Linked DNA regions of Homo sapiens. The protein of the gene in region 1 purifies or fractionates together with the protein of each later gene. This does not show direct contact. Each region holds a gene or a part of one and is shown in the gene's direction. Other genes may lie near its edges. The genes, in order: VAMP4, STX18 and NAPG.

What was found.
Region 2: the proteins of VAMP4 (region 1) and STX18 purify together in Homo sapiens (affinity purification with mass spectrometry; 3 studies listed by BioGRID and IntAct, with this or other methods). This does not show direct contact.
Region 3: the proteins of VAMP4 (region 1) and NAPG purify together in Homo sapiens (affinity purification with mass spectrometry; 3 studies listed by BioGRID and IntAct, with this or other methods). This does not show direct contact.

What each region holds. Positions count from the first base shown.
Region 1 is NC_000001.11:171,717,939-171,721,594, reverse strand, and holds part of VAMP4 (vesicle-associated membrane protein 4), read left to right. Parts: intron 1-2,373; coding exon 2,374-2,424; intron 2,425-3,656. UniProt on the Homo sapiens protein: Involved in the pathway that functions to remove an inhibitor (probably synaptotagmin-4) of calcium-triggered exocytosis during the maturation of secretory granules.
Region 2 is NC_000004.12:4,532,024-4,535,679, reverse strand, and holds part of STX18 (syntaxin-18), read left to right. Parts: intron 1-3,656. UniProt on the Homo sapiens protein: Syntaxin that may be involved in targeting and fusion of Golgi-derived retrograde transport vesicles with the ER.
Region 3 is NC_000018.10:10,546,371-10,550,026, forward strand, and holds part of NAPG (gamma-soluble NSF attachment protein), read left to right. Parts: coding exon 1-34; intron 35-1,928; coding exon 1,929-2,008; intron 2,009-2,596; coding exon 2,597-2,726; intron 2,727-3,656. UniProt on the Homo sapiens protein: Required for vesicular transport between the endoplasmic reticulum and the Golgi apparatus.

The sequences.
Region 1 (3,656 bases):
ATGCTTGTGATTTTTGCACATTGATTTTCATAATTTCTGATGCTACTAAAAATGACATTTCAGATGGTGTTTCAAAATTTTAAAATGTCATACTTATTGCTAGTATAAATATCATTTTGTAAATTAACCTTGTATTCTACAATCTTGCCAAACCCACTTAGTTTTAGTAGTGTTTTTATATATCCTACTGGATTTTCAACATAGAACAATTATGCTTTCTGCAAATAAAGACAGTTTTATTTCCTCCTCGTCTATGTTTGCCTTTTATTTTTTATTAGCTTATTGCTCTGATTAGAACATCCAGCACAATATTGAGTAGAGGTGGTGAGAGGGAATATCCTTGCTTTGTTCCTGATCTCCTTTAGGGGAAGCATTCATCTTTCATATTATGTTTCATTTTCATTGCATGTTGTTACTGTTGTTGTGTGTAGATTTATCAGGTTGAAGAAGTTTCCTCCTATTCCTAGTTTGTGAAGAGTTTTTATCATTAGCTGACGTTGGATTTTGTCAAGCATTTATTTTGTATCTATTGAGATGATCATTTTTTTTGGTCTGTGAATGTGTTGAATTATGTTGATTTTGAAATTTTAAACCGTCGTTGCATTTGTGATATGAACCCTACTTGGTCATCATGTATTATTCTTTTAAAACATTGTTAGAATCAATTTGTTAAGAGTTTGTTAAGAATTTTTGCATCTATGTTCATTAGAGGTATTGGTTGGTTGATAGTTATGTCTTTTTCTTGTTGTGTCTTTATCTGGTTTTCGTGGTAGGTTCATACTGGCCCTGGATAATGAGTTGGGAAAGTTCTGTCTTTTTTAGTTTTCCAGAATAGTTTGCATAGAATTCTTATTTTTTCTTCATTAAATGTTTGGTAGAATTGACAACTGAACAAATCTAGTCCTGGAATTTTCTTTGGGGGATTTTTTAAAAATAATTTTAGACCCACAGAAGGGTTGCATAGATAGTATAGAGAGTTCCTATCTACGCTTCACTTAGCTTCTGTTAATAAATCTTATATAACCATGGTACATTTGTCTGTAGTGATGTTCACTCTTCCATTCCTGTTACTAATTTATGCCTTCTTTCTTTTTTTCCTAATCAGTCTGGCTAGAAGTTTATCAAGTTTTAATTTTCAAAGAACCAGCTTTTCATTTTGTGTTTTTCTATAAGTATTTTGAAGTCTCATGTTACTTGATAGATGAAACAGACATAGCTCCTGCTTTTTTTTTAACCTGTAGTGGGGATCATTTTAATTCAGTACTTTTCAGATTCTATTTCACTTTATAGTTTCCTCATTTAATGACTGCTTTTCTTTGTTTTTCGGTTGACCAGCTCTTGTAAGTTCTTGCCTAGTTTTTAGGAATGGCCTCTGGTTCAGAATATTAGTTTTCTCTATGAAATTCAATGTTTAACATCACTTTGGAATGGAATACTGTTCCAGTATTCTGAGGCTTAGTTGGAGCTTAAAAGACTTTAAGGAAAAAGCTTAGAGGAACTAAGGCAAGATGATATATTCACACTTATACATTATGTTAAATAAGTTTCAGTAAACAGTTTTTTTTTCCAAAATTTTTTTATCAATTGCTGTATTTTTTCACCTCCTTTAGAAATTGCCATGTCTAGAAATCTAAGAACCTGGTTTCTTTTGAGTTTTGTAGTTTATGTCTTATTTATTCTGTATCTCCGGAAGAATCATGATTACTTTAAATAACCAAATGTTTTCATTTCAAGAATATTAAAATGGATTGGTTAAGGTGTGATATACACTCAACTACAATAAGGAGATAATAATCTGAGTAATGTTAAAATTTTCTTAATATCTTGCATTTCCCTTTTGCTATGTTGATAAGTTTAAGATGAATAATCAAAAACATACTTAAAATTGTTAGTGTCTTCAATGAATTTTTCTCTATATCCATCTTTGTCAATCGGCAGTTCACTTTGTAGTTTCCTCATTTCATTATAGTCTAAATTCAAGATGAATTGCGCTTTTAGTTCTACAGTTGACCATAAAGATATTAATATTCACTAGCAGTTAAGTAGTTAGGATATTTCAGAGTTTAATGATCAGAACAAATTCTGTGTAAGTTTGTTATATAAGATAATATAAACCCTAATTTCTCTGAAAGTTTTAACATGCAGAAGAATTAGCTTAATTGTGGCTAGTAATAAGTGCCAATGAAGTAAAGACATGATTACCTATTATTCAGTTTCACCAGTATCAGTAAAATGTGGTCCCTTATGATAAATAACTGATCCATGTTTAGAGTTCAGCTTGATTGTTTGTATTTGTGTATACTTTCTATCTTTTTTTTGTTTTGTTTTAATCCTGTCACTACTAATATGTACTTGGTATGTACTTGTTTTCAGAAGGGGACCATCTGGACCAAGATTTGGACCTAGAAATGATAAAATTAAGCAGTAAGTTTTGTTCATTTGTTTAAATGATAATCATATTTCTGTGTAGACTAGAGATTGGCAAACTGCAGCCTGTGAGCCAAATCTGGCTGCAGCCTGTTTTTGTAAATAAAGTTTTATTGGAACATAGCCATGCCCATTTGTTTTCATATTATCGATAGGTACTTTCAAGCTACAATGGCAAAGTTGAGTAGTTGTGACAAAGCTGTGTCACATTTTATGGCCCACAAAATCTAAAATATCTGCTGAGTGTCTGGTCCTTTACAGAAAAAGTTGTTGACCCCTGATGAAGACTAAATATAACTGCTGGGTTATAAAAACCTAATTCATTTTATTTTCTCAGAATTATAGCTAAGGAAATGCAGGATTGTTGGTTTTTTTATGACTTGATTACCTTATGTCAAATCCATTTATTTAGCATAGTCTGAAGGTCTATTTTGGTTTTAAATCTGTAGCTTGATTCCTATTTTCAGAATGATAACAAAGGTAATATAATAGCTTTAATTTGTTGATGTACTGCATGTTTTTATCTACTTCCAGAATTTTTTCATATCTCTTATTTATCATAACCCATATATTGAACTAAGTTTTATGGCTAATTTGTGGTTTAAAACCTTTGAGGTATATATTATTTGGTGATAGATGAGTATAATATGCTGTAATCAATGTGTCTGATATCGGAAAGATATGAGTCCTGACTGGAGGGGAGAAGGAATAGACAGAGCAGTGAGTCACTTGAGGGAAGGCTCTGGAAACTGACCAAGCTGTAAAGACTAACTGTGGAATGTGAACTGCATGGCCCAGGTTCAAGACCTAAGGAGGGATAATAGTCACTACCCTAAGCCTGGGTATAGATGGCACATTGTGGGAAGGGTTCTATAATGAAGTATCTAGTTATTGGTGAGATACTTGGGCTTTACTCAGGTAGCTGTTGGTGTGAAGAAATATTTCCATACTTAGCCTAATTCTAACTAATGGATTTTGAGATATGGAACCAAAGAACCAATAAATGATTACAGGTACTAGACTGGGTGTATTAGTTTTCTATTGCCATGTAACAAATTACCATAAACTTAGCAGCTTAAAACAACACACATTTATCATCTCACAGTTTCCTTGGGTCAGGAGTTCAGGCACTTCTTAGGTGAGCCTTTTGCTCAGGTTTAACAAGATGGCAATCAGGGTATCACCAGGTATGACCAACTCAGGAAGTTATCAGAATTTATTTCCTGCAG
Region 2 (3,656 bases), on another chromosome or scaffold:
CTTTTTAAATATGGCAGGAACCTTTTAGCTAATGAAATAAGGAGCAGCTTTGGTAAAAGCTGGAGTGAGAGGTTTGGGGAGAGAGGTTCATTCGCCAGCCTACTACCCTTCTGTTACCTTCCCCCTCTCCTTGAGGAACCCCTAGGAACCAACCAGAGGGCCCAGAGACACACAGTTTAAAAACCACTGCTTTAATGCTCTCCAGGGCCTGTTTTAGCTTCATGATGCTGTGTTTTTATGGATTGCAATAACTGAGTGTGTACTATAAGGAGAGCTCAGCACTGCAGAGTTTTCATGAGATTGTGAGTCCTTTGTGTGGATTACACTTCTGAATTTTGCCCAAGACTTAGGAGGACTGTAAGTTTTGAAATGTATTTATTCAATAATTGATTTATACCATCATCCAATAAACACTGAACATCTGGTGTGTCAGGCATTGTGGGGCCATAAAAAAACTATGAGGCATATTAACCTGTTCTTTGAAAAGATAGATAAAGGATACCTAAATCTCTTTAGGGGAGAATCAGTGGAAACCTCAAAGTGATCATCAAACTTGGCTTTTAAGGAGAAAAACCATTCCACCAGACGTAGGTAGAAGGGATGGGTGTGAGCAAAGGCAGTGGCACACAACAGTAGGGCAGTTTGGGGCCAGAGGCAAGACTGGTGTGACTAGAGCCCTTTTCTGGAGGAGGCCCGGGTGAGGGTCAGAGTGTCAGGGGGTGAGGTTGTACTGAAGTAGGTTAGAGCAGGGGTCCACAAACTGGCCCACAGGCCAAATCCGGCCCACTGCCTAGTTGTGTAAATAAAGTTTTATTGGAATATGTCATTTTCATTTGTTTAAATATAGGCCAAGAATGCTTTCATGCTGTAGCAGCAGAGCGATAGCCTGCAGAGGCCTGCAAAACTTAAAATATTTACTGTATGACCCTTTAGAGAAAAAGTTTGCCAACTCTTAGATGAGAGCGTTGTTAGCAGTGCTGAGGAGTTTGTACTTTATGCTCTGGGCTATGCGGCAGAGGCACGAAAGGATCATGTTTGTATTTTAAACTAATCCGCAGTGTTGATGATGGGTTTGGAATGTAACAAGACTGACATGGAGAGCTAAGCAGGATGCTGTTGCAGTAATTCAGGTGAAACTGAGGAGCCGGTGACAGTAGGGTTGGATGGGAGAAAAATAGATGAAGTAGGTATTTAGTATTTAGTAGGTAGGCTCAACAAACTTAGTAAAACTTAGTAACTAATTAGTGGAAATAGAAAGAGGAGGAGGTAGAATAATTTCCAGCTTTCTGGTTGAAAAGTTAAATGGTAGAAGATTACAATAACAGAGTTTTCAGGGTTAGAGTTGAGTGCCAGTTATTCATGCCTTCTTCTTAATTCTAAATAGTAGAGAATAGATCCAAGGAGCCCATGGACACTGGAGTTTTATTAAGACAGCATGTGGTGGATAACTCCCCAGCAGCAGTGCTTACTGATAAACCTGGATTGAGGAACTCAATGGGGTCCTTCAGCTTTGCCACATTTAGACCTTGGAGACAGTTGAGTACAAAATAGATACCCAGTGCCTATGTACCTATGCCCAGCCAGTTGCATGGAGATTGAGACCTGTCTCAGCAATACGGCCATCACTAGGCTGGGACTTATGGTGGCGAGAAGTACAAGGAGGTAGAAACTTAGGATGGCCCGTGTGGATGCCAGGTTCTCTCCTGTTATTCTCAGTTCTGCTTTCTTTATTCTTGAATGAAACTCATCTTGGGGTTAATGATTATATCACATGTTGTAGAAGCATGATTCTCAGGGATAGTTGATTCATTTTCTCCTGCATTCCATGAAGAATCTGGAGTGTGTCAAAGAGTTCCCTCTTTCCTCACTTTTGAGTTGGCAGTTGACCAATTATTATGTGTCTCACCTACTAGGGTAGGGCTGCAGAAACACGTCTTCTCAGTGTGACGTTTTTAGTGAATTCTTCCCATCAGGGGCTGGCTTCATTTTGGAGGCCCAAGAACCAGATTTTTCTACATATTGAGGCTAGAGCCATCTGTTAGGGCAGATATCAGCCAAGCTCACGTCAACTTGTGTGTAAGTCAGAATACCAGTTAATTTGTTGTAAGCACTGTAACTAATGTGCAGAAGAATACAGATTTTGGAAACTCAGTCATTTTTGAGCTTCTGCTATAGGTCAGGAACTCGGTTAAGGACTTTATGTGCCCGATCTCATTTAATTTTTCTCTTTTTCAGGGGATAGAAATATATTATTGAGTGATTTTATAATATTGATTGTATTATGAATAATGTGGTTGTTGAATTCATGTAAACTTGATGTTTGACGTCTCTTACTACATGGAAATCCACATGGACTCCCTCTGGTGGGTAAAGTATCAGTGAAGTCTACACATGTTAATTATGGCTTATGGTATGAAAACCATTTTATGTTTAAAGCGTATTACATTTAATATTGACTTAAAAAGAGGCAACTTCAAAACTCCTCTAAAAGAAAGTGAATAAACCAGAGGAATGAAAGTATGATATATTGAATGAACCCAATAACTCAGATATGGAAAGCTTGCAGCACAGTTGAAATTTTAAACCCGGCAATACTTTTTTCTTTGTTACAGACTTTCAGATCCTCAAAGACTATGAATACTAAAGTTTGCCAGCTTCTACTTATCACCATCTAACATATGTCTGTTTGTCAAAATGTTCTTACCATGGAATTTGTAAGCTGTATTTAACCAAGAGAGAGACACTTCCATTTCACAATATTGTAACATTTCTATCTAATTTGTAGTCAAATGATAAGAAAACTCTGGTGAAATGAACACTTGCCTTTTCTTGGACATTTTCTCCAGCAGTGAATTCTATAGTCTTAGCAGAAGTAACAGGCTACAGCATATCTTAACTCAGAGGAATTGAGAAAGGAATTAAAAAGTGTACGTTTCGAATTGTAAATACTTTTGGCCTTTGCCAATAGCTTACTATGTGATCTTGGAGAACTCACCTAACCTCTCTGGGTGTCACTCTTCTGATTTTTTTAATGAGAGGTTTTGACTAGATAATCCATAAGGACCTTTTCAATGAGATGGTTGCATGACTCAGTACTCTTTATCTGAAAGTCCCAGGATGTATTTTTAAATACTTTTTGCAGTGATAACTGCCCATTACCTTGTGATATTTTCCCTGAGTCTCTGAAAGAGTGAGGTTTTTTTTTTGTTTTGGTTTGTTGTTGTTGTTGTTGTTTTCAAAGTTAGCATTTTTGGTGTGTTTTCACAAATGTATTTGATTTAAAAGTGGTGATATAATTTTATAATGGAATTTTATTAGCAGGGCACATTTTTGAAGTTGACTATTTTAAAATCTGATTATAAAATTAGTAAGTGCTCATTAAACAGAATAAAGAAGAAAATAGTTCACATTTAGTACCAGTGTCAGGAAATAGCCATAGTTAAAATTCTGGTGTTTAACTTTCCAAACATTTTTTCTGTTAAATAAAATCAAGATTCTTCTACAATACGGTTATGTAATCCCTCTCCATATGCCCTCCCCTCTTCCTTGGGGGAGTAGAGAGGGGTTACATAACAGTATTGTAGAAAACAATGTATTTTGGAAATTTTTAAATATCAGTATGTATTGCTCTTACCACCAGTTTATTTGGCTGCATA
Region 3 (3,656 bases), on another chromosome or scaffold:
TAAGGAAATTGAGAATTATCCAACTTGTTATAAGGTATTCTTTGAAAGTGTTTGTTTTTGGTATTACATTAGATGATTTTTTATACTGGTATGAATAAGTACTTAAGAAAGGATTCTATGGGTATTTCTATGTTTTTGTAAAATAATACTTCATGGGCCTCTATTTTTGACCAAGATAGAGTAAGCCCACTACAGCTTGTTTCTCTGCTGATTACAGCTAAACTACTGGATAAAATACAAAAGCAACCACCCTTGAACTCTGAAAAGTAAATAAAAAGAGACTAAGGAGAGGAGCAAACACGTGGAGAAACAACCACCATGGGAATGAGTTTCTCGGGTTTTTTTCCATTTCCTCTTGCAGCATTCATTGCCCTGCCCTGAGAGAAGCCCACAGTTGTGGAGCTGGGCAGCAAAGGCTGCAACAATGAAAACTCCAAAAGAAACCCCGCCTTTCTAACCAGCAATGGGAGAAGAGGTCCCATTGTTTTCCTCTCCTTTGGCTTTGCTCCAAGCTTGTCCCAGGCATGGAGCTACACTGTGATGATGGCTCAGGTTGATAAAACTCCACAAGGACCCCAGTCTCTTTTGCCAGAGGAACTAGGAAAATGAGCTAGAGAGCAAGGAGAAAATTCCGGAAAGGAGAGAGCTGGAAACGGAGTCCCCTGAGTGTGGATGTGGCCCACACAAGTCTTGGGTTTACTCTTCAGCTGTGCTGAGACAGGCCTCAAAGTAGCAGTGCAGCGCAAAGCTTGGAGAGCTAAGATTTCATCACTGTCGAAGTGTTGCACTGCCCTCTGAAGGGCTTATGCATGGAACAGGCCCAAAGCCACATAGCAAAGGATTTGAATTAAGTGTAGAACTTCCATCCACCAAAAACAAGGCACCACATGTAGTCTGAACCTAACTGGGGTGATTACCTGCTGAAAACATCTGTACTCTCCTGAAAATTAAGCAGAGGCTGTGCAGCATCACATTCACAGTACAATCCAGAATTACTCAACATGCAAGAACCTGGAAATATGACCAGTTTTCAGGAGAAAAGACAACTGATGGCAACCCGGCAGTGACCAGGGTTGTTGGCATTATCACATAAAGACTGAAGCAACTATAAGTTGCTCCATGAGGTAAAGATAAACACAATTAAAATGAATAGAAAAGAGGACCTGTTGTTTTTTATAGGAAAAATTATTTTTATAGAAACTATAAAAATGAACTAATTGGGAATTTTAGGACTGGCAAATACATTATTGAAGTAAAATAATTGGATAAGCTTAATCTCAGAGATGACAGAAGGAAGACTTTGTGAACTTAAAGATAGATCAGTAAAAGTTACCTAAACAATAGAGACACCAAAAGATGGAAAAATACTTCATGAAGACCTATTTTTCCAGTAATTTATCAGTCATATCCTTGATCTTATTACTACTTTTATTGTTGACTTATCAATACTATCATTGTTTCTGTTATCTGAAGTTTTCACTCATACATCTTTTTCCTAGTTTCTTTTTAAGGATTCTAAGTATCATTGTGGTGTTACGGGTCCCCCCCACTTCTTTTTTATTCACTTTTCAAGATTGAATCTGTGTAGATATTTGAAAGAGATCTCTTTAAAACGTGGTTGTGATCTAAGGCTTGTGTCAAAGTGCGGTCCCCAGACCAGCAGCAGGAGTGCCCCCTGGAATTTGTTAGAAATGGGTGAATCCCAGGCTTGCCCCTAGCAGCCAAATTCCAGGACATGAGAATTGGAAAAGTACTGTTCTAGGATATTTCCCCTCAGGTGTCCCGTGGAAGTTACTATAGCATTTATAAATCTCTGTTTATACAAACAAAGACTCTGAAAGTTAAACTCCAGGTGTTTTCAATACTGCCAGGTTATTGACTTTATTAAACAGATGTAAATTTGACCATGATCCTCTCTTTTGTTTTAGAAAACAATTGCTCAAGTCTTAGTTCATCTACACAGAAATGACTATGTAGCTGCAGAAAGATGTGTCCGGGAGAGCTATAGGTAAGACGTTGTCTGGGCCCTCTTGACTTGCAGTGGCGACACCTCTGTGTCTACAACTAAGATTGCTGCTAGGACACATGTTCCTGGCCATGAAACTGTCATTTCTAAATCTTAGGAGTGCTCATCTACCATTTCATCTTTTACAGTGGGTGTTTTACACCTTTTTTTTTTTTCCCTTTCCTGTATTTTTCTCTAGGGGACCTCCATGGAAGTGAATGACTTTAGTCATTTTAGTCATTTTATTTGCCTTCTAAGAAAAAAAGAACAAGAAAAAGGGGGAAAAAATTATCAGATTTATGTTACAGAAATCAAAATGAGGAATTTTCTCGGTGTTTAACATGAGCAGTCTTAATCTCAACACTGTTAACATTTGGGCTGGATAATTCTTTGTGGTCGGGCCTGTCCTGTGCACTGTAGGCTGGTTAGCGGGATCCCCGGTCTCTGCCCTCTAGATGCCACTAGCATTCCCACACTTTTAAGTACCAAAATGTCTCCAGACAGTGTCACATGCCAGGGGCAGAATCATCCCTGCCTGAGATGTGTTCTTTTAAGGAGAAGGTGAAGACGTGTGATTTGTGCTTACTGCAGCATCCCTGGGTTCAATGGCAGTGAAGACTGTGCTGCCCTGGAACAGCTTCTTGAAGGTTATGACCAGCAAGACCAAGATCAGGTGTCAGATGTCTGCAACTCACCGCTTTTCAAGTACATGGACAATGATGTAAGTGGACCCATTTGCATAGCTTTCATCTTTTCTCTTGAAAGAAAGAGGTTTCTAGTGAGATTATTTTTTACCCATGTACTTAAGAGATTTTTTCCTACCTCTTTTTTTCTTCTCAAGCTACTACTCATAAGGAAACTGACCACTTGCATTGAATTTCACCATAGATTTAGATAAAATAGATGTTAGTTGTGTGGTGTATAGCCATTTACTCACCCATCTAACTCTGTTGACCATATACATATTTTAAAATTGAGGCTCATTTCTCCACTTTTCCTCTATCTGTTGTCCTCTGTAGGTTGCTTTTATTCATTTCTTTTAGACGGACTCTCTGAAAGAGGTCCATTCTGTAGTGGCCTTTGTAATTCAGTAGACCTATGAAAATCTGTGAGGACTAGCTGTGTGTTGCAGGTCATTAATTATCTCTAAGCCTCAGTTAATTCATTTGTAAAAATGAAGCCACTAGTACCTGTCTTGCTGGACTGTTGTGAAGAATACATTAGTCAGTGTGTGAGAAATATCCTCACATGATGTCTTGCACATAAAGTGAACCATGACTATAAGTTTTTATTTTTTCTCATTTGTCTTTTTCAGTAGATTTGTAAGTACCTGTTTGGCCTTAGGCCTTTAGAGTATCATCATAGTATCAGATCAACTTAAGGCCTTCAGTTGTTTATTATAATGATATATGTAGATAATTTTTTTTCTAAATAACGTCTTACATAGGTTTTGAAAATATATATATTTCTAAAGTTTTAATTAAAAAAAATTTATAATTGAAACTTTTACTAGTTGTGTACCTGTCCCACCATGGTCATGAGGCATCTGGGGAGCAGCATTGTTGGGCTTTGTTTTTCCATCTGAATGGTAGAATTGGTGTTCCTGAGGGTGGGGAGCCAGGCTGTGTCTTTTTAGAGCTGAGTAAAACAT